2 separate regions of the Homo sapiens genome follow, and region 2 is linked to region 1. Evidence: fine-mapped expression QTL. A gene starts in region 1. The other region holds a variant in brackets. All regions are shown on one strand. Distances are between the middles of the regions. Region 1 holds the start of CIRSR (corepressor of RBPJ and splicing regulator). Region 2 overlaps GPR155 (G protein-coupled receptor 155).

Region 1 (10,393 bases):
CCACTGGTTTACAGGACAGGCTATATTTAAATATGAAGAAATAAAGTGGAAGTGGTATCACAGATGAATAAGTGGTCTTAGCAAAAGAAAAAAATATGGCATAGGATACAGAAAAAAGTCTAATATTTAATATGTTTTAATATTAGAATATCAATAAAATAAAATCTAAAAAGTATGAATTAGCAACAATAGCATAATTTGAAGCTCTCATTTTAAGTTCCACATTAAATGGGTTTTTAAAATAAGTTTTTAAAGGATCCTTTAATTAATGTGTATACTACCAAGTGACTGCATAAAATGTATATTGATAGTGTTAACATAGGGCCTAATAAACCTTTTTTGATGTGTCATAAAACTGTCATTCCTAAAGTCTGGGATGACTTTCCTATTCTACATCAAGTAGAACCTAAGCCAATTCAGAATCAGAATCCTTTTTGTCCATCAAATTCCAGCTAACTCCAAGCTGAATTAAATGTTCATTCTCTTCCGCTGCCACAGCATGCTACTGTTACTTAAATTTAGCATTTAAACCATCCTATTTTATAATGGGGTATAATGCATACACATCTTATTGCTATACTAGACTCTAAGCTCCTGGAACAGAGTCTTGACAGCTGACTTTAAATCTCTTGCCCTATCTAACATGCTTGCATATGGAAAGCATTCAAATATTTATTCAAACAATGGATAATTTTATTATTGTTATTTCAACGTCCTCCGAATCACTGAAATAAAAGATCACAGTTTATTTCTGACTCATTTATTTTTCAAATGTAAACTCCTCAATTTTAACTTCTACAGTTTCTTCCAAATTGCTATGTATAGAAATAACTTTATGATATTTTTAAAAGGCATATTGCTAACAAAACATTTATTTCACCTACCTTAAGACGTTCTCCCAGGTTATCATGAACTACAGCAGGAAAATAAACCACCTCTTGTACTTCATCATAGAGTCTATCTGAATTTTTTCCAAAAATAATCCTGTTATCGACTGTTGCTGGAGGTAATGCCACGAAAGTGTCACAGGAAAAAGGTTCCATTTTTTTTAACTAAAAATTATACAGATGTTTTAAAATAAAAAGAACACTTTTAAGTATATAAAAATAAAGAGTTTTACTCAATGACCAAAGGATATTATTGCCATATCTAATTAAGGATGTTCATTAAAGCTTTGATTTTTTTATTTTTATTTTTTGGAGACAAGGTCTAGCTCTTTCACCCAGGCTGGAGTGCAGTTGTATGATCAGGGCTTACTGCAGCCTGGAACTCCTGGGCTCAGGAGATCCTCCCCCTTCTGCCTCCCAAAGCCCTGGGATTACAGGCATGAGTGACCGTGCTTGGCTGTTCATTAAAGTTTTAAATTTTGTATACTACAGCCTAAAAATCAGTAAGAATATGACTTGGGACTCAATCTGGTACTACAACTCAGTAAGAAAATGGCAATGAGAACTACCTTCTTCTACTGTATAGTTCACATTTATTCTCTAAGACCTTTCTCTCCTAAAGTCTTCCCTGAATTTCGTTTCACCATTTCCATATTTGGGAATCCGTGTACCTAGCTCTATTGTTGTAAAGGCTAGATTCCATTACATTCGTGTATATATAAATCCCTTTACTGGACAATGAGATCCTTGAGGGCTGGGAGTATGTCTTACTAATCTTTATATTCTCTTTGCTGGAACTTGTCTTATGGAAAAAAATCTTACGTGCCCAGTACTTCCTCAAAGGAAGGAAGAAGGGGTCTTATTTGAGCTGGGAAATAATACACATTATAATTCTGATGAGACTGAAATTTTGAAACAGACTCATTGATTCAGACAAAAATATGTCAATATAATTCCAAATTGCTGATATTTCTAGGAGAAAGTTCACATATTTAATTTATAAATCGCAATTATATACTTTAATATCTAGATTACCTCTTCAGTTGTAACTTGGAAAATCTTAGATCTTCACTTATAATAGAACACCTAAAGGTCCTTATTTTGCTGCCAGAACAGACACATTGTTTTACAGAGTTTCCTTCTTTCCTTTAATAATGGCAAAACCTTAAAATGGCTTTACACAGGCAGATGCTAGCAACTTAAAAACAAAATTTAAATATAATAAATGTTTCCTTAAAAAGAAAAGAAAATGACTAAATAAAAACTTCAGACTGAAACTCTTAAGGGTTTTCCTCTTCTCCTCAGTGACGAGAAGTCTGATGTCTTGATGGCTTCTGTTATTTTCTTTCTGTATTTCAACTCTTATGTCCTGGATCTCCTTCTATTTGTGTTTTATAGTTAGTTCTATCACTATATAACTTTGGCAGACTATTTAATCTCTCTCTTACCTATGCCTTCTGCCTCATCAGAAAAATAAGACACTATTTGATGGGCTGTTATGAGAACTTAATAAGGCAACACGTAAAGTGTTTTGCACAGTGCATAGAACATAGTAGATACTCACATGAAAGCTGTTATTGTTATTATTTGGTAGGAGAGAAAATTTCTCATAAAGGCTTATTCGTTTTTTGTTTTTTTTTTTTGATGGAGTTTAACTCTTGTTGCCCGGGCTGGAGTGCAATGGAGCAGTCTTGGCTCACTGCAACCTCCGCCTCCCGCGTTCAAGTGATTCTCCTGCCTCAACCTCCCGAGTAGCTGGGATTACAGGCGCGTGCCACCACACCCGGCTAATTTTTCGTGTTTTTAGTAGAGACGGGGTTTCACCATGTTGGCCAGGCTGGTCTTGAACTCCTGACCTCAGGTGATCCACCCACCTTGGCCTCCCAAAGTGCTGGGATTACAGGCGTGAGCTACCGCGCCCGGCCAAGGTTTATTCTTAACATTACCCTGATAGAGAACTTGGTTGGTGGATCACCTGCTGCAGTAGCAGCCACGTCCACTCAAAAACCTGGAGTCCCAAGGGCCATCAAGCTGCAATAGTAACCTGAGCTGCCTAACTGGGGTCGTAGGGAAAGCTAAGGAAACTTGCCCCCTGGTTAGAATTGCACCTAGCCCACTGAGGAGGTGAAGCCTTGAGAGATTTTACCAACTCCTAACGCGTATTCGTCATTCAATAAGTATTTATTGAACGTCTTTCGGCGCCAGTACCGTACAGCTGGGTACAAAATAGACAGGGCCTCCGTTCTTGCAGAGCTGTCTGTCATTCTATTTCACGCGCTCTTAGTTCAGCCGGCGCTTTCAGAAACATCATATTGTTGGATTCTCGCAAGCATACTACGGTTAGGGCCGGAATTATTATCTTCATAACATAGATGAGAAAAACAGTGCAGAAAAGCTTTTGCAGCTCGAGTCAGAGTCCACAGAAAGTAATGGGCTCGAGCTTCAAGCACCTTTGGTCGAAGGGCCGCCGCGGTCCACCCCGCACCCCGGCCCTGGGCGCTCAAACCGCAGCCGGTGCAGCTGGGCTCCGGAGCCCCTCGGTCAAGCAGTGCCGCGCCACAGTTGGGTCTTCCGGGTTTCTGTCTCAACTATGCACGCCCCTCCCCCGTGCGCGCCCCTCACCTGGCCTCCCAGCTACCCGAAGTGACAGGTGGACGGAGGGAGGAGTGGCCAGTGGAGGCATCAGTTGCCGGAAGCTGTCACCTTTGATCTCGGAAGTTCCCCCTTGCTGCTGGAAACGCAGTTCCGGTTAGGCGGCTGAGTTTGTTTACGTTGCTAACAGATCTAGCCCCTGCTTTCCCTAGTTCCAGTTCCAAGATGGGGAAATCCTTCGCCAACTTCATGTGCAAGAAAGACTTTCATCCTGCCTCCAAATCCAATATCAAAAAAGTGAGTAAACAGACCCGGGGAGGGATTAGGCCCACAGGGACCGCCTTCCCAGAGGCTGCTGGAAGTGAAAGTGATGGTGTCTCTGAGATCCCTAGGACAGCCTCCGCTTCTCTAGGCCTAAAGCCCTGGTGGTCTCGCCTTTCTCTGCTGAGCAGCTCGCTGACGCAGCGGGTCCTCAGCGTTTATTCTGCAACAGCGAGGAGACCGGTGGCCTAGAGAATCTTTGTCGGCCAGAATGCAAATCCATAATATGCGAAGACTAATGTCAAAATTCCTCAGTACTTCCTTCAGCTGATTCTGGTTTTTTGTCTTTTCGGATCCCAGGGATCACGGCTTCTGAACTCTACTTTTCTGTACAAAGAAGCCTCCCCGTTTACTTAAGATAGATCTTTAAAAAAATTACCTAATAATCTAGTGTCTTTTTGATGACTAAACTCGTTGAAGTTTAGTGTTTTACATAATTACAGGTCTACCAGTTGTAATACTTTGGTGAATATCATAGTAATGAAAAGCAAAAGAGTGAAGTAGAAAGAATCAGCTTTGGAGTCAAACCTGGATTCTAGTTATTCGAGCAGTCACTTTTAGCCTTAAGACCTTGCACAAAATATTTGTAATATCTGACCCTCAGTCTTCTAATCTGTAAATTAAGGATGATTGACTTAATTGTGAGGATTAAGTGAAATAGTGAAGATAAAGGATTTGAAACAACGTAGGCATCTATCACTGTGTCCACTACAGAGAGGAGGTGCTCAATAAAATGTTGATTGCCCCTACATAGAAACTTGTGAAAATAACTAAGCTTTTATTTGTTTTTAGAACGAGTTGAGGTGATGAGATACTGCTATATACTCTCACTTCTAGACCAGTGATTCTCAACTTTTTTTTCACTGTTACCTTCCTAAGGAGTCTTATTAAACATTTTTTCTTAATAACTCCCCCATGAAATTTTAATAACACAGATACACCTTGAAAGCTCTTTGGTAATCATCCAGCCCCATCTCCTCATTTTATAAATGAGGAAACAAATTTGCCAAGAGTTACACAGCTAGTTAAATGTTGTACCAGAACTAGGATCTGGAACACCTGATTAACCCAGTGATTTTTTTTCCACTGCACCAGTTTGTGTTTGTGTGGTTGCAACTGTGGGAGGGAGAGGTTTCTTGTATTTGGTTGGCTCAATAACTTTTGACACCAAACACAGACATTTCCTTTCTCTGCATACTTAGGGGGTCAGCTGTTACTATTTTTACAAGAATGAAGAGATTAGATGGAATTCAGGTGCTTGCTTATTTGCTGTTTATATTTAGAGACAAATATACCTGAGAAATCATAATTTTTTACTGGAACTTTTGACATTTCGCTTTATAAATTTCAATGTATCAGCTTTCTTACAAGAAAAAAGAAATCCACAGAGAATAACTTTTGCAAGTCCGCTATGAGAAATTCAGTAAAGCAGTTATAGGCTTAGAACCTACATTCTTCTCATCTGTGTAAAGTGTTATGTAAAATGTACCAAATATTGTTGGCCTCTTTGATCTGTTTTATACTTTTCCCAGGATAGAGGAGAAGAATGAAATGTTTTTGATTAGCAGACCTTTCTAGATAGTTAACACTTTATGGGGAGAGGGGGTGACCTCTAGCATTCTTTATTAACTAAGGATAAAGGAACTATATTAAATGAAGATAAATAGAAAAATTTATTAGGGTAGGAGGAAACTTTTGGAGGTGATGGATATGTTTATAGTGTAGATTGTGATGATGGTTTCACAGGGATATACTTGTCACCAAACTCAGGTTGTATACATTAAATATGTACAGCTTTTTATATGTCATACTCCAGTAAAGTTTTTTTTTTTTTTTAATAGAAGTGGAAGAAACAAAGGAGTTTGATCAAAGAGTGCAAAAGAGTTCCACCATGAAAATTTTAAGGGCCAGGTATGGTGGCTCATACCTATAATTCCAGCACTTTGAGAGGCCAGGAATTCAAGACCAGCATAGGCAACAAAGTGAGACCCCATCTATATTTAAAAAGAAAGAAAGAAAATTCTAATTGTAAAATTAGGCATGTTGGGTTTATTAAAGTCCAGTAGGTTCTTTTTTTCCTTGTTTGTTTTCAGTTTCCCAAGCTTATAAAAAGTCCAGTAGGTTTTAAGGTCTCATTTGTTCACCAAAAATAAGAGTGAATGCTGTATATCTGCTGGTCACTCTGTTGTGTATTGTTATGCGCTGCCTCAATCATTTATGTCACAGGATACACTGTTTTGTTCAGCTGTTCTTTTTTTTTCTTGATTTTGTTAATGAAGGAAGCAGTTAATTTACATTGTGGTCCAAGCTCTTTAGTCTTCTTGTGGACTGGCAAACAGTTCATAAACTGGCTATTGACAATTGCATCACTGTAAACTCCCTTTTTTGTGAAACTCTCTGTTCCCTTAGCTGTAATAACTACTCTCTTCTAGTTTTCCAGCTCTCTTATTAGACTGTTCTTTTCCCATCAACTTCACTGGATCTTTATTCTTAGCCTGCTCCTAAAATATAAGTGTTCCCCAGAGTTTCATCCTTGGCCCACTTCTTGCTTACTTAGTATGCTTGCCCCAAGCAATCACATCCAACTAGCCTGTTTTAACTAGCCTGTTTACTCATGACTCAAATCTGCAGTCCCAGTTTTCTCTTCTTAACTTTGATGTGGCTCAAGACAGCTATCTACTAGACATTTGCATCTTGATGTCCTATAGGCACCTCAAACTCAACATATCTGATATAAAAGTTTTTTACCCCAAATCAGCCCTTTTTATACTTGCTATCTCATATGGGTAGAAATATAGATAGTAAAACAGTCCCTCATCCTGTTGCCCAAACCAGAAGCTCAGGATTCATCCCTTTTCCCATCACTCCTTTATCTAGTCAATCACTGAATGCTATTGGTCTTACCTTCCAAATATCTCTTGAATCCATCTTTCCTTTCTGTCACTGCTGCTTGTGTCTTAATTCAGACCCTCATCATCTTTCACCTATATTGTTGCATTTCCTAAGTGGTTCTACTGCCTCCAATCTTGAGTCCTCTCAAATCCATTCACTACACAGCCATCAGAATAGTCATTTTTCATTTTAACAGCTCTGCTGAGATAAATTTACATATCATACAAACACCCATGTAAAATGTACAATTTAGTGGTTTTTAAAATGTATTCATGGAGTTAAGTAATCATTACCACAAACAATTTTAGAACTTTGTCATCACCCCAAAAAGAAACCCCCGCTGGGCATGGTGGCTCACACCTGTAATCTCTGCACTTTGGGTGGCTGAGGTGGGTGGATCACCCGAGGTCAGGAATTCAAGACAGCCTGGCCAACATGGTGAAACCCTGTCTCTACTAAAAGTACAAAAATTAGCTGGGTGTGGTGGCGGGCGCTTGTAATCCCAGCTACTTGGGAGGCTGAGGTGGGAGAATCGCATGAACCCGGGAGGCGGAGATTGCAGTGAGCCAAGATTGCGCCACTGCACTCCAGCCTGGGTGACAGTGAGACACTGACTCAAAAAAAAAGAAACCTGCATACCTGTTAGTCACTCCCATTTTTCCTTAACTCTTCTCCCTCTCTCCAGCCCTAGGCAAGCACTAATCTACTTTCTGTTAGTGGATTTGCCTATTCTGGAAATTCATTTAAATGGAATCATGCAATCTGTGGTCTTTTTTGACTGGCTACTCTCACCATAATGTTTTTGAAGTTTATCCATGGTATGGCATGTATTGGTACTTTTTCCTTTTTATTGCTAAATAATATTCCATTGTATGAATGTAAGTTATTTCGATAGAATTGTCTTTTTTTAAGCACAAATCTGATCTCTTTCAGCCTGTTATTAAAATATTACAGGATTGAGTCCAAGTAATCTCACTCCATCGTTTTTCTCCTTCTCCCCTCCTACTATTCTCCCACCTCAGATTTATTTATTTATTTATTTTTTGAGATGGAGGCTCACTCTGTTGCCCAGGCTAGAGTGCAGTGATGCAGTCTCAGCTCACTGAAGCCTCTACCTCCCAGGCTTAGGTGATTCTCCTGCCTCAGCTTTCCGAGTAGCTGGGATTACAGATACACACCACCACGCCTGGCTAATTTTTGTATTTTTAGTAGAGATGGAGTTTCACCATGTTGGCCAGGCTGGTCTCAGACTCCTGACTTAAGGTGATCTGCCCACCTCAGCCCAACCTAAGATTTTATATGTTAGTAATATTGAACTACTTACGTTCTATTTTATATCTCTGGGCCTTTGCCTGAGTCATTCTCTCTGCCAGTTATATCTTGCCCTGTTTTTTTCCTTGGCCATGCCTTGATCCTTTTCAAAACCCTGTCAAATGTGTGTGAAATTACCTGTGTATTGAGTTCTTGCAGCAAAATTTTTAATAGCAAAATACTGGAAATTTCTTAAGTGCCCATTTATACAGTATGAGATAAATAAATTATAAATTATGGTATAGTCCCACAATATGCAACTTTACCACCCAAAAGAAGAAAGTGTTTGTTTACTGATCCATATTAGTCTTGTATTAGTATTAGTCTGTTCTCATGCTGCTATGAAGAAATACCTGAGACTGGGTAATTTATAAGGAAAGAATTTTAATTGACTTGCAGTTCTGCAGGGCTGGGGAGGCCTCAGGAAACTTAAAATCATGGCAGAAGGGGAAGCAAACACGTCTTTCTTCACATGGTGACAGCAAGGAGAAATGCCGAGCAAAAGAGGAAAAGCTCCTTTTCTGATGGTTTTATCCATCAAATTTCCTGAGAACTCACTCACTATCACGAAAACACCATGGAGGTAACAGCCCCTTTTATTCAGTTACCTCCCATCGGGTTCCTCCCACGATACGCGGGGATTATGGGAACTACAATTCAAGATGAGATTGGGTGGGGACACAGCCAAACCATACCATTCCACCCCAGCCCCTTCCAGATCTCATGTCCTCACATTTCAAAACACAATCCTGCCCTTAACAACCAAAGTCTTAACTCATTCCAGCATTAACTCAAATGTCTAAGTCCAAAGTCTCATGTAAGACAAGGCAAGTCCCTTCCACCTATGAGCCTGTAAAATCAAAAGCAAGTTAATGACTTCCTGGATACAACAGGAGTACAGGCATTGGGTAAATACACCCATCCCCAATGGGACAATTTGGACAAAACAAAGGGGCTACAGGCCCCATGCAAGTCCAAAATCCAATAGGGCAGTCATTAAACCTTAAAGTGCCAAAAGGATCTCCTTTGACTTCATGTCTCATATCCAGGGTGTGCTGATGCAAGAGGTAGGCTCCCAAAGCCTTGGGCAGCTCTGCCCCTGTGGCTTTGCAGGGTATAACCCCTCTCCTGGATGCTTTCATGGGCTGGTGTTGAGTGTCTGTGGCTTTTCCAGGCACATGGTACAAGTTGGTGGATCTACTATACTGGGGTCTGGAGGACAGAGGCCCTCTTCTCGCAGCTCCACTAGGCAGTACCCCAGTAGGGACTCTGTGTGGGGGCTCCGACCCCACATTTCCCTTCCGCACTGCCCTAGTAGAGGTTCTCCAAGAGGGTTCCACCCCTGCAGCAAACATCTGCCTGAACATCCAGGTGTTTCCATACATCTTCTGAAATCTAGGCAGAGGTTCCCAAACCTCAGTTCTTGCCTTCTGCGCACGTGTAGGCCCAACATCACATGGAAGCTGCCAAGGTTTGGGGCTTGCATTCTCTGAAGCAGTGGCCATAGCTGGAGTGGCTGGAATGCAGGGCACGAAGACCAAAGGTTGTACCCAGCAGTTGAGAGGCTGGACCCGGCCCAGGAAACCACTTTTTTCCTTCTCCTAGGCCTCCAGGCCTATGATGGGAGGGGCTGCTGTGAAGGTCTCTGACATACCCTGGAGACATTTTCCCTTGTCTTGGTGATTAACATTCGACTTCTCATTATTTATGCAAATTTCTGCAGCCGGCTTGAATTTCTCCCCAGAAAATAGGGTTTTCTTCTCTATTCCATTGTCAGGCTGCAGAATTTCCAGAATTTTATGCTGTGCTTCCTCTTGAATGCTTTACTGCTTAGAAATTTCTTCTACCGGATACCTTAAGTCATCTCTCTCAAGTTCAAAGTTCCACAGATCTCTGGGGCAGAGGCAAAATGCCACCAGTTTCTTTGCCTAGCAAGAGAGACTTTTACTCCACTTCCCAAAAGGTTTCCCATCTCCATCTGAGACCACCTCATCCTGGACTTCATTGTCCATATTACTATCAGCATTTTGGTTAAAGCCATTCAACAAGTCTCTAGGAAGTTCCATACTTTCCCACATCTTCCTGTTTTCTGAGCACTCCAATTCTCTAGGAAGTTCCAGAGTTTCCCACATTTTCCTGTTCCAACCTCCACCTGTTACCCAGTTCTAAAGTCACTTCCACATTTTCGGGTATCCTTTTAGCAGCCCTCCATTCTACCTATACCAATTTACTATATTAGTCTATTCTCACGCTGCTATGAAGAAATGACCAAGACTGAGTAATTTATAAAGGCAAGAGGTTTAATTGACAGGAAACTTACAATCATGGCAGAAGGGGAAGCAAACATGTCCTTCCTCACATGGTAGCAGTGAGGAGAAGTGCTGAGCAAA
Region 2 (10,511 bases), 76 kb before region 1:
TAGCTGAGAAAATGGGGATTGAATCTGTTAAAAAAAAATAGGTTTTAGCTTTTATGAAAAAGGTGACCTTCTAAAGGTTACATAATCTAGTTATATAACTTTAATGGGACATGTGCATGACATTAACTGAACTTACATATCCTGAGTAAGTAAACAAGTGTATTTTCCTACCTATATCATTTTATCTTAGTGTAAATTGAGAAACCTAATTTTTTTTTTTTTTTTTTTTTTTTTTTTTTTTGAGACGGAGTCTCGCTCTGTCGCCCAGGCTGGAGTGCAGTGGCGGGATCTCGGCTCACTGCAAGCTCCGCCTCCCGGGTTCACGCCATTCTCCCGCCTCAGCCTCCCAAGTAGCTGGGACTACAGGCGCCCGCCACTACGCCCGGCTAATTTTTTGTATTTTTAGTAGAGACGGGGTTTCACCATTTTAGCCGGGATGGTCTCGATCTCCTGACCTCGTGATCCGCCCGCCTCGGCCTCCCAAAGTGCTGGGATTACAGGCGTGAGCCACCGCGCCCGGCCGAGAAACCTAATCTTTTACATGTTTTCACGTTTGCCTCTCTCCTTGTGAACGACTGTGGCTGTTCTTTTTTATCTTTCTCAACTTCAAATCAATTATAAATCAGCCTTTATTTGCATTAGATTGTATAATTTCGGGACCCATTGTCAAAAATGTGCTAGAGACCAGTTGTTTACTGAAAGGCCCTAAGTTGCTCTAATAAACTAAAGACTAGGTCACCAACCCTCACGTCTACCAGGAAACTGCTAGAAGTCTGATCCCACTCACTCACCTCCCTCATGAGATTAAAAAAACACATCTTATGCAGTGGTTAAGTCCTAAAGTCATCTTGTATATTCAAACTCTTGAAAATGCCCACCAAATACAGCACACATACTTTGTCTATATTGTACCATTTTTCATAAGTCTAACACAGCCAGATTTTTTTAGCTAGCATTGTTCTTCAATGAACAGCAGTTGAAATAATTTGTTTGCACTTGGAAACATGCTATGGGGGGTGGGGGGAAATGAAGCTTTTGTTTTCCCAAGAGGGTATGGTTGAATTTGTGTTAACTAAATGTGCATTGATGTGACTCTACTGTATTTCCCTCCCAAACATTGTAAGATCCACCTTTCTATCTCTACTCCTTAAGTATCTCCACTGGTCTTCTTTGAAGGCATTCATTCCTTTTCATTCCTCTCAAATGGAGGTTGTTCATTTTCCCATTGCCAGCACACCACATGAGCAGTGGAAGGTAGGACTGGCATCCCCACAGCTACTGTGGACCATTGCTAGACCATCCCTCTGCTCTGCTGTTAAAAACTGCTTTGAGGTTCATACTTTCCGGCTAGACCACTGATCCTCTCTGCTGTTACCTGCTGACCTCATTCTAGGCATTCCCTCTCATTTACCTTTATCCCAAGTTTTGTCATTGTCTTGTGAACTACCATGAAATTCTCTGCCCTGTCATTTCCTTGACCTCCTCTTCTCCAGTGATGTTTTCCTTTACTCCATTTCAGCCACTAAGTCCCATAGCCACATCCTGGACCTTGTCATCTGGAAAATATTTAACTGAGTAGCTCATTAGCTGTTTTACTCTGAACTCCCGCACTTCCAACTGTCCCTAATTCCTAGAGGCCTCCAAACATCTCCCATCTTCATTTCTTTTCTTACACAGCTTGGATTCCACATCCGTGCTCCTTTTTAGTTCCTGAAATAACTCCTACTCTCTCCTCAACCCTCTGTGATCTGACTTCTGTCTCTTACCACTCCAGTAAAACTGTTCTTTCCATGGATACCAATAAACACATTTTTGCTATTACTACTTAAATGTTTAGTTTGTCCCTAGATTTTTACTTTGAATTGTTTCTTCTAAAAATTCTACAATTCTGCTCATTTTTGGAGACTAATTTTAACCCTTAGATGGTAAAAATTAGTGAGGTTTAAAAATAATGTGTAAACTTGGTTATCATTTTATAAGCTATATGATATTTATTATGTTTTTCTTTTTTCAGCTTTATTACTAAAATGTACTTTTCCAAAATAGGCTATTTGGGTCATTTTGAAAATTTTAGATTTATCATTGCTATAAAGTACAGAAAATGTTATATACATAACATATATCTGTATTTCTGTGGTCATCATTTAAAAATCAATATTCTTGTTTTGCAGTTGAAGCTTTATATCAAACTACATACCCAGAATATCTCCAGTACATTTATTTGGTGGCACCAATATCTCTTATGATGTTAAACCCTATAGGGTTTATTTTCTGTGAAATCCAAAAGTGGAAAGACACTCAAAATGCTTCTCAAAATAAAATAAAAATTGTGGGACTCGGACTCCTGCGTGTATTACAGAACCCAATAGTATTTATGGTCTTCATTGGCATCGCCTTCAATTTTATTCTTGATCGAAAGGTACCTGTATATGTCGAAAATTTTCTTGATGGACTTGGAAATTCTTTTTCTGGATCAGCCCTATTTTATCTTGGTCTCACGATGGTGGGAAAAATAAAGAGACTGAAGAAGTCGGCATTTGTAGTACTAATTCTTCTCATCACAGCTAAACTGTAAGCATCACTTATTTAACTTGAGAATTGTACTTTTTGAAAGCCGTATTTAGCCAATTCATCAGGGGTATGTCTGCAACCATTTTCCCCTTTGAATATTAATAACCCCTCCTTGTAGAATAGTTGTGAGATAAAGGAAAATGTGATGGTGTATTGTGGAAAGTCATTTCCTTATTCCCAGTAGCTTATTCTTTCCATCTTACTGTCAGAGGATAAAGATGATGGGTTTCCCTTCAGCTTTTACATAAAGTTTACTCAGTATCTCCTCATGTCCCAGTTTGACAGTATTTTCAAATAAATTTTGCAGCATTTCTGACTTTTCCAAATCCATAAAGACCCTAAAGACAAAAGCATCTTAGTGATAACCAGAACAATAATTTCTAATGCAAACTTTTTTTCATGAATTTGGGAAAAGTATTTTGTAGTTCTGAGGTTGGCCAAATTTTCTAAATACAGCCAAGTCAATATGAATGATTATTATCAGCCATATGATCCTGGCTTGCCAAATGAAAAGTGCTCATCAACTTCTTTTTTGTTGTTGTTGTTTTTGTTTTTGTTTGAAACAGAGTCTTGCTCTGTCAACTAGACTGGAGTGCAGTCATGCGATCTTGGCTCACTGCAACCTCCACCTCGTAGGTTCAAGCTATTCTCCTGCCTCAGCCTCCCAAGTAGCTGGGATTACAGGTGCCTGCCACCACACCTGGCTGATTTTTATATTTTTAGTAGAGACGGGATTTCACCATGTTGGTCAGACTGGTCTCAAACTCCTGACCTCAGGTGATCCATCCATCTCGGCCTCCCAAAGTGCTGGGATTACAGGCATGAGCCACCGTGCCCAGCCTCAACTTCTTAGTTAATAGTTCTTCAGCTTACTTGGTCCATTAGCCATGGAGTTCTACATGATGGTGCAGGTGACATAATTTTACTGCAAGATTATCCCAAAGTACTTGAGGCATACTTAACTATGGAATTCCCCTCATGTATAGACAGTTATATTCATGAGACCAGTACAACATAATCTACTGTTTTCATAATAATAAAAATGAATATAAGTACTGAAAATTATTTATGGCGATGTTATGCTCTTCAGAAACAAAGTATTAGTATTGTGGAAGTAATAAGTATAGTTTAAACAATAATGGTATTATCAACTTTTGCTTATAAGTAGAATTTAAATATTCTAATTTTAAAGATGGGGGGTCTTTGATACTTAATTAGATATTTAAGTTTTTTAATTTAAAAAGTACAGATCAGAGTAGTTCTTTACTCCATCCCAGAGGGCCTTGCTAGGTGCTGCTGTGAAAATGTTAACAATCTTGGTCTTGCTGATTTTAAAGGAGAGCCCTATTTGCTCAACTACTGTGGATTTGCTCATTCTATGAAATCCTGAAAAATTTGTTTAATAATTGACTCTTCAACAGGTCTGCATTTCACTAGTTTTCTGCTCCATCTCAGTTGTTTTAGTTCCTTTGCTAATTTTTTTTTTTTTTTTTTTTACAAAGATGAAGAGCTACTTGAAGATACCTATTTTTCTACAGGATTTTGGAATCTTTTTTTTTTTTTTTTTTTTGAGACAGAGTCTTGCTGTGTCACCCAGGCTGGAGTACAATGGCTGGCATGATCTCAGCTCACTGCACCTCCACCTCCTGGGTTCAAGCAGTTCTCCAGCCTCAGCCTCCTGAGTAGCTGGGATTACAGGCATGTGCCATCATGCCCGGCTAATTTTTTGTATCTTTAGTAGAGATGGGGTTTCACCATGTTAGCCAGGCTGGTCTTCAACTCCTGACCTGAACTCGTGATCCGCCTGCCTCAGCCTCCCAAAGTGCTGGGATTACAGGCTTGAGCCACCATGCCGGCAGGATTTTAGAATCTTATTAAGCAATGTTGTTATTAACTGAACCATTTCAACCCCTAATCATGATAAAGTTCAGCTTTTTTTTTTTTTTTTCAAAACAGGAGTTTCTGTCTCTCTAGAATACTTTGAAAGAAAGAAAAAGAGTTTAGTGATTCTCTTGAAAGAAGTTTTTATGCAGATTGTCAACCTTCTTTCTTTCTTTGAACATTTCAGTAAACTGATAGAGGAAGCAAGAAAGTAGCTAGAATTGCAACTTTTACCATCTTTTGGCAAAAAACAAAAATTATTTGTAGAACCAAAAACATCTTTTTTTCCCTCCTAATCCCTGATGTGTGAGGTATTTCCAGAATATTGTTACACTTTAAATGGCTCCAAGTTGAATTCTTGATTTTTTTCAACAAAATGTGCCCAGGTAGACATGCACAGAATATGTGCATGCAAATAGACATACCTTCTGGGCAGGAGAACCTGATGCCAAATTCACCAGAGCAGCCTGCTACTGGGGACAACCATGCTTTGATA[T/A]CAGGTAAATGATGTTTTTCTTTTTTCTTCAGTCTGGTGCTGCCACTTCTGTGCAGAGAAATGGTGGAACTCTTGGACAAGGGCGACAGTGTGGTGAACCATACAAGTTTATCAAATTATGCATTTCTGTATGGTGTATTTCCTGTAGCACCAGGAGTGGCTATCTTTGCAACACAATTCAACATGGAAGTAGAAATTGTATGTATATAGTACTTTCTAAGTTTGATGGTGTGTTTAGTCGAAAAAAATTTTTAAATTCATTTCAAATTTTTTAAAATTCTTTTTTAAAAATGAAAAAATAGAGACGACGGGGGTCTCACTATGTTGCCCCAGGCTGGTTTCAAACTCCTGCCTTCTGCCTTGGCCTCCCAAAGTGCTGGGATTACAGGCATGAGCCACCGTGCCCAGCCCATTTTAATTTCTAAACATAGAAAGCAATGTTGTTTTTTATGAGGTCCAGCACTTTGGGAGGCTGAGGTGGGCAGACCACTTGAGGCCAGGAGTTTGAGACCAGCCTGGCCAACATGGCGAAACCCTGTCTCTACTAAAAATACAAACATTAGCTGGGTGTGGTGGTAGTTGCCTGTAATCCCAGCTACTTGGGTGGCTGAGGCACAAGATTTGTTTGAACCCAGGAGGCAGAGGTTGCAGTGAGTTAAGATTGCACCACTGTACTCCAGCCTGGGTGACAGAGCAAGCAGCATTGTTTTTTATGAGAATTTGATGCCTATAAGCTATCTCATTATAAGAAATAGGCATCATGTAACATAATGTAACAACAGTCATTTAATCTGGGGTCTTTAGTCAGCCCTGACTTTTTTTAATCAGTTTTTTTAGTTTTAACTATTTTATTTCTGTACTTAGACAGAAACCTAAAAATTATTTACAGAAAGGTAACTTTGAAATTTTGAAGAAAAAAATGCCTATTTTATCATTGATAATTTCAAGCACCAGATGCAAAATACTGCATAATAACTGCAGCAGATAGCTAAAATCAATTGACACCAAATTATTAACAGTGTCTAAATGTATTGTAAATGGTATCTACAGCATCAGAGTAAATGATTTTTAAATATAATACAAAGGAACTAAGTTGTTTAATGGAGGTCAATTCTGTTATTTAATCTGTAAAATAAATATTTGCATGGTAATTTTCTTTTTTTGAATTCCTTTTCTTTTTTGCCACATAGTTTGTGAAACAGGTTTATTTATATCATTGCTACAGTTTATTTTCTAGAACTTAGAGGATAACTAACCATCAACAGTAAATTTCTAGTATTTATTATGCGTAAATATAAATTAAGCATAGATTAGAAGAGGAACCAAGGTAACTCAATTGTATTTTGTATTAAGGATTCTCAGAAAGGGGAAGTATGGTATTGGATAACATGCTGGATTTTATAATGTCTTTACTGTGTCTCATTTTTATTTTAGAATGCTTTAGTGTGCCGTGGTTATTTAAAGTTTAAAATACTGTTTAATTGAGATTGTAACTCCTCTGTTTGATTTCATTTTTGCAGATAACCTCAGGGATGGTGATAAGCACATTTGTGTCTGCTCCCATCATGTACGTTTCTGCCTGGTTACTGACCTTTCCCACTATGGACCCTAAGCCATTGGCATATGCCATCCAGAATGTTAGTTTTGATATAAGTATTGTCAGCCTGATCTCCTTGGTAAGTACGTTGCATCCCAAAATGAATGGAAACCACAGAATGAGTTTTGAGAATAGACTGTTAACAGAAGGGATTTAAAAATCTAGTTTCTTATGAAATAAAGAAAGCTAAAGCCTGCCCATAAAATATAATGTCAGCCTTCTGATTAACTGAGTTTTGTTTTTCTATTTGGGAGTTAGAGTTCTATAGCAGACAAGACATGAGATTTAGTCACACCTGGATTTTATTCCTGGCCCTCTCACAAACTAGCTGTATGCCTCTGTGGAGTTACCTTAACCTCTCTAAATTTCTGTTTTCCAGCATAAAATAATGACAATAATTTCACATATTTCCATGGGTTTTTTAAGGGGTTACATGAAATAATATATGTGAAAAGCATTCTGCAAATGATGAATCACTATAGAATTCCTAGCTGTTCTAGAATCATGGGGTCAGAAGGTATCTTTGAGTTCAAGTCCAACCGCCTATTTAATGTTAATGAAACTTTTGGTTACTTCTCAAACTGAATATATCTAACTAAAATTAAATAATTAAGTATATGACAGCTAGAGTATCTTACAGATCAAATGGCCTATTGAATTCATGTTAGTAAAACTACAGATATTCTGGCTGAAAAAAAAGACAATGTGTACAGTTAATGGAGGTGGGGGTGAATATGTATATTGGTAACAGATAAATGTGTGATTAATTTTAAAGAAATTCCACCTCTGTCACATGTTCTTAAAATCTACTACACCCATTCATAACAGGGCAGTTTGGGGAAAGAGACCATATACATTTCAGTTGGCAATGAGGAAAGAAGGAAGTCGCCAGGATACTTACCTGGCCAATACGTAGGTAGAATGGAAACCCAATCCTTTAAAATATGAGGAATGTGATCTGGCACCGTGGCTCATGCCTGTAATCCCAACACTTTGGGAGGCAGAGGCAGGCAGATCACTTGAGGCCAGGAGTTCGAGACCAGCCTGGCCAACATGGAGAATCCCCATCTCTACTAAAAATATAAAATTAGTCAGGCATGGTGGTATGCATCTGTAATCCCAGCTACCTGGGTGGCTGGAGGCACAAGAGTCACTTGAGTCTGGGAGGCAGAGGTTTCAGTGAGCCGAGATCGCACCACTGCACTTCAGTGAGACTCTGTCTCACACACACACAAAGAATAAAAAATGAAGAATGTAAGATGATTAATCTTAAAGGTGTGTGGTATGTGTTGTTTGAAGTAAAACAGCCTGGCATTTAGATACCCCATGAGACAATATGTTGGAAATAGAAAAGGAAAAAAACTTAGAATAGTGCATTATTATAACTATCTCCCACTAAAGCTCCTTCCCTGAATAGTTGTCTGTGACCCTGTGTCCCACCCCAGACACGGAAGGTAGGCATAGTTAGAACATGGCCCTGGTCAAGGGATTAGTTCTTTTTTGTTGAGACAGAGTCTCCCTCTGTTGCCCAGGCTGGAGTGCAGTGGTATGATCTTGGCTTGGCTCACTGCAACTTCTCCCTCCTGGGTTCAAGCAGTTCTCCTCCCTTAGCCTCCCAAGTAGCTGGGATTACAGGCATACACCACCACACCCAGTAGAGGTGGGGTTTCGCCATGTTGGCCAGGCTAGTCTCGAACTCTTAACCTCAAGTGATCCGCCTGTCTGGGCCTCCCAAAGTGCTGGGATTACAGGCGTGAGCCACTGCACCTGGCCAAGGCATTAGTTTTTTTTTGTTTTGCTTTGTTTTGTTTTGTTTTGTTTTGTTTTGTTTTTTGAGATGGAGTCTTGCTCTGTCACCCAGGCTAGAGTGCAGTGGTGCAATCTTGGCTCACTGCAACCTCCACCTCCCAGGTTCAAGCAATTCTTCTGCCTTAGCCTTCTGAATAGCTGGGATTACAGGCGCCCGCCACTGTGCCCAGCTAATTTTTGTATTTTTAGTAGAGACAGGGTTTCGTCATGTTGGCCAGGCTGGTCTCGAACTCCTGACTTCAGGTGATCCACCTGCCTTGGCCTCCCAAAGTGCTAAGATTATAGGAATGAGCCACGATGCCTGGCCACATAAGTTCTTAAAGACCCTGTAATTTTTGGAGAGTTAATTTATTATGGGATCTCTCCATGCTTGTTATTTTACATTGGTTATAATAATTTACCTTTTTGGAACTAGACAGATTAAATAAAATATTGGAAATTCTTTCCGAACCAGGACAAAGAGGGTTATTTAAAGAGGCTAATCATTGTGTTATTTAATAAGTAATTATAAAGATTAAGAAACATGAATAACTTTTGAACCTTTTGTCTTCAAGATCTGGTCTCTGGCTATTCTTCTTTTGAGTAAGAAATATAAACAGCTTCCTCATATGCTTACAACTAATTTACTCATTGCTCAGGTTAGTAAAACTACTGATATTTAGAACTATGTTTTTCTAATGGATTATTCTACTGTAGAGGAGAAAATAACTTTGCTAGGTTTTTCTAGTTATGAAGTCAGAAGTATTACCAAATGCAGTCAATTACAGTTTGATTACAACTACTATACGCCTAACATATTTAATATTGCAAAATGTCTTAAACTATCTAAAGTTGAGGCTAATAATGGCATTTGATGATAACTTTGCATTTTTTAATAGAAACAATTTAATCATTAATAATTGAACTCTTTCACAATCATTTTTCTAATTAATCTTTGCATGTCTCAAATTATAATGGAAAGAACTTTAGCAATTTTAATGTAAGCCATTACTAAATACAGGTATAAAATTAATATTTAGAATGAAGTCATCTGTTTCAATTGGATATGTATATTGTCAAAGGCTCTGTTATAAAATGGATTTTTAACATAAAGTTTGAAGTTTTAGTATAAGTAGTGTGTAATACTTGATAATTATTCACAAAAAATTTTAAACAAATAATTATATTTGCTGTGAATGAAAGATGAATATGGCTGGCTTAATTGGAATTTTCTGTTGCAGTATTGAATTATATGGTTTTCTTAGCTATTTACAAAGTCTTTTAATAATTTTTTCCTTAGTCTATTGTCTGTGCTGGAATGATGATATGGAATTTTGTTAAAGAAAAAAATTTTGTTGGACAAATTTTGGTGTTTGTTCTATTGTACAGCTCCCTCTATAGCACCTACCTGTGGACAGGTGAGTTGGATTATGAATGGAAATTGAGATCTGTTCCCCACCCCACCCCATTCCTAATAGCCCTGAGCTTCTAGTGATCTATTTGAAGTCTGGTAGTACAGGATCAAGGCATGCACTGAGGCAGATCAGCCCACCCACAGAGGCCATCGGCAAAGCTGAGTTCTGTTTCCTAATGTACTCTATTCCTGCCTGGGCTTAGAGCCTTGTCCAGTCACATGGTCCTTTTCCCCAGGGCCTGTGGCTCTAGGCTGCTGTCAGTGCTGCTCCCTTTTGGAGACAAGAGGGAAGATACTGAAGGCAGATGGAGAAAGGCGGGAATGGGAAAGATGCGTGAGGTGTGTTCCAGAGCTCACTATCGAGTCCTGCTGAACAGGGAAATTCTGGCTCTGCCTCATGCAAATTACTTAACTTTTGAAGCCTCAGTTTCCTCATTTGTAAAACTAGGTTACAGCACCTTACAGAGTTACTTTGAGGACAAACTGAAATGTTGAGTATTTATGTCTGGTACATGGTAGGCACTAAATAAATAGAACTATGTTAGTTATTAAATAGAAGAATTAGAGGTAATAAGAGAAGAAGAAAACTAGGGGAATAAAAAGGCATGGAAATAGAAAAGGACCCAGTGAGAAAGACTGTTTCTCATTTCAGCTGGCTCCAAAAAGGATATTCAAAATGTTGTAGCACATTGCTATTTTGAAGTATAATATTTATGTGGATGCATGCATTCTGGTATGTTTGTGAAAAATTCTGTCTGGCTGTT

Evidence for each region. PIP is the estimated chance that this variant, and not a neighbour inherited with it, causes the effect.
Region 2: its variant is fine-mapped to the expression of CIRSR in whole blood (TOPMed, PIP above 0.99).

Annotation. Positions count from the first base shown.
Region 1 is chr2:174,388,934-174,399,326 of GRCh38, reverse strand. It overlaps CIRSR (corepressor of RBPJ and splicing regulator), which reads left to right and starts at 3,615. Exons shown (of 10, transcript NM_004882.4): 1 at 3,615-3,776. The coding sequence starts at 3,705. SCRN3 (secernin 3) reads right to left here and starts at 3,597. Exons shown (of 8, transcript NM_024583.5): 1 at 3,510-3,597; 2 at 885-1,052. The coding sequence starts at 1,043. RefSeq lists enhancers at 2,669-3,169, 3,667-3,716 and a silencer at 7,103-7,267.
Region 2 is chr2:174,465,025-174,475,535 of GRCh38, reverse strand. GPR155 (G protein-coupled receptor 155) reads left to right here. Exons shown (of 16, transcript NM_152529.7): 3 at 2,172-2,571; 4 at 4,981-5,146; 5 at 6,469-6,624; 6 at 8,909-8,992; 7 at 9,634-9,751. Among named protein-coding and RNA genes, the nearest start is that of GPR155, 17 kb to the left of the region's middle. The variant T/A (reference allele first, on the strand shown) is at 4,949.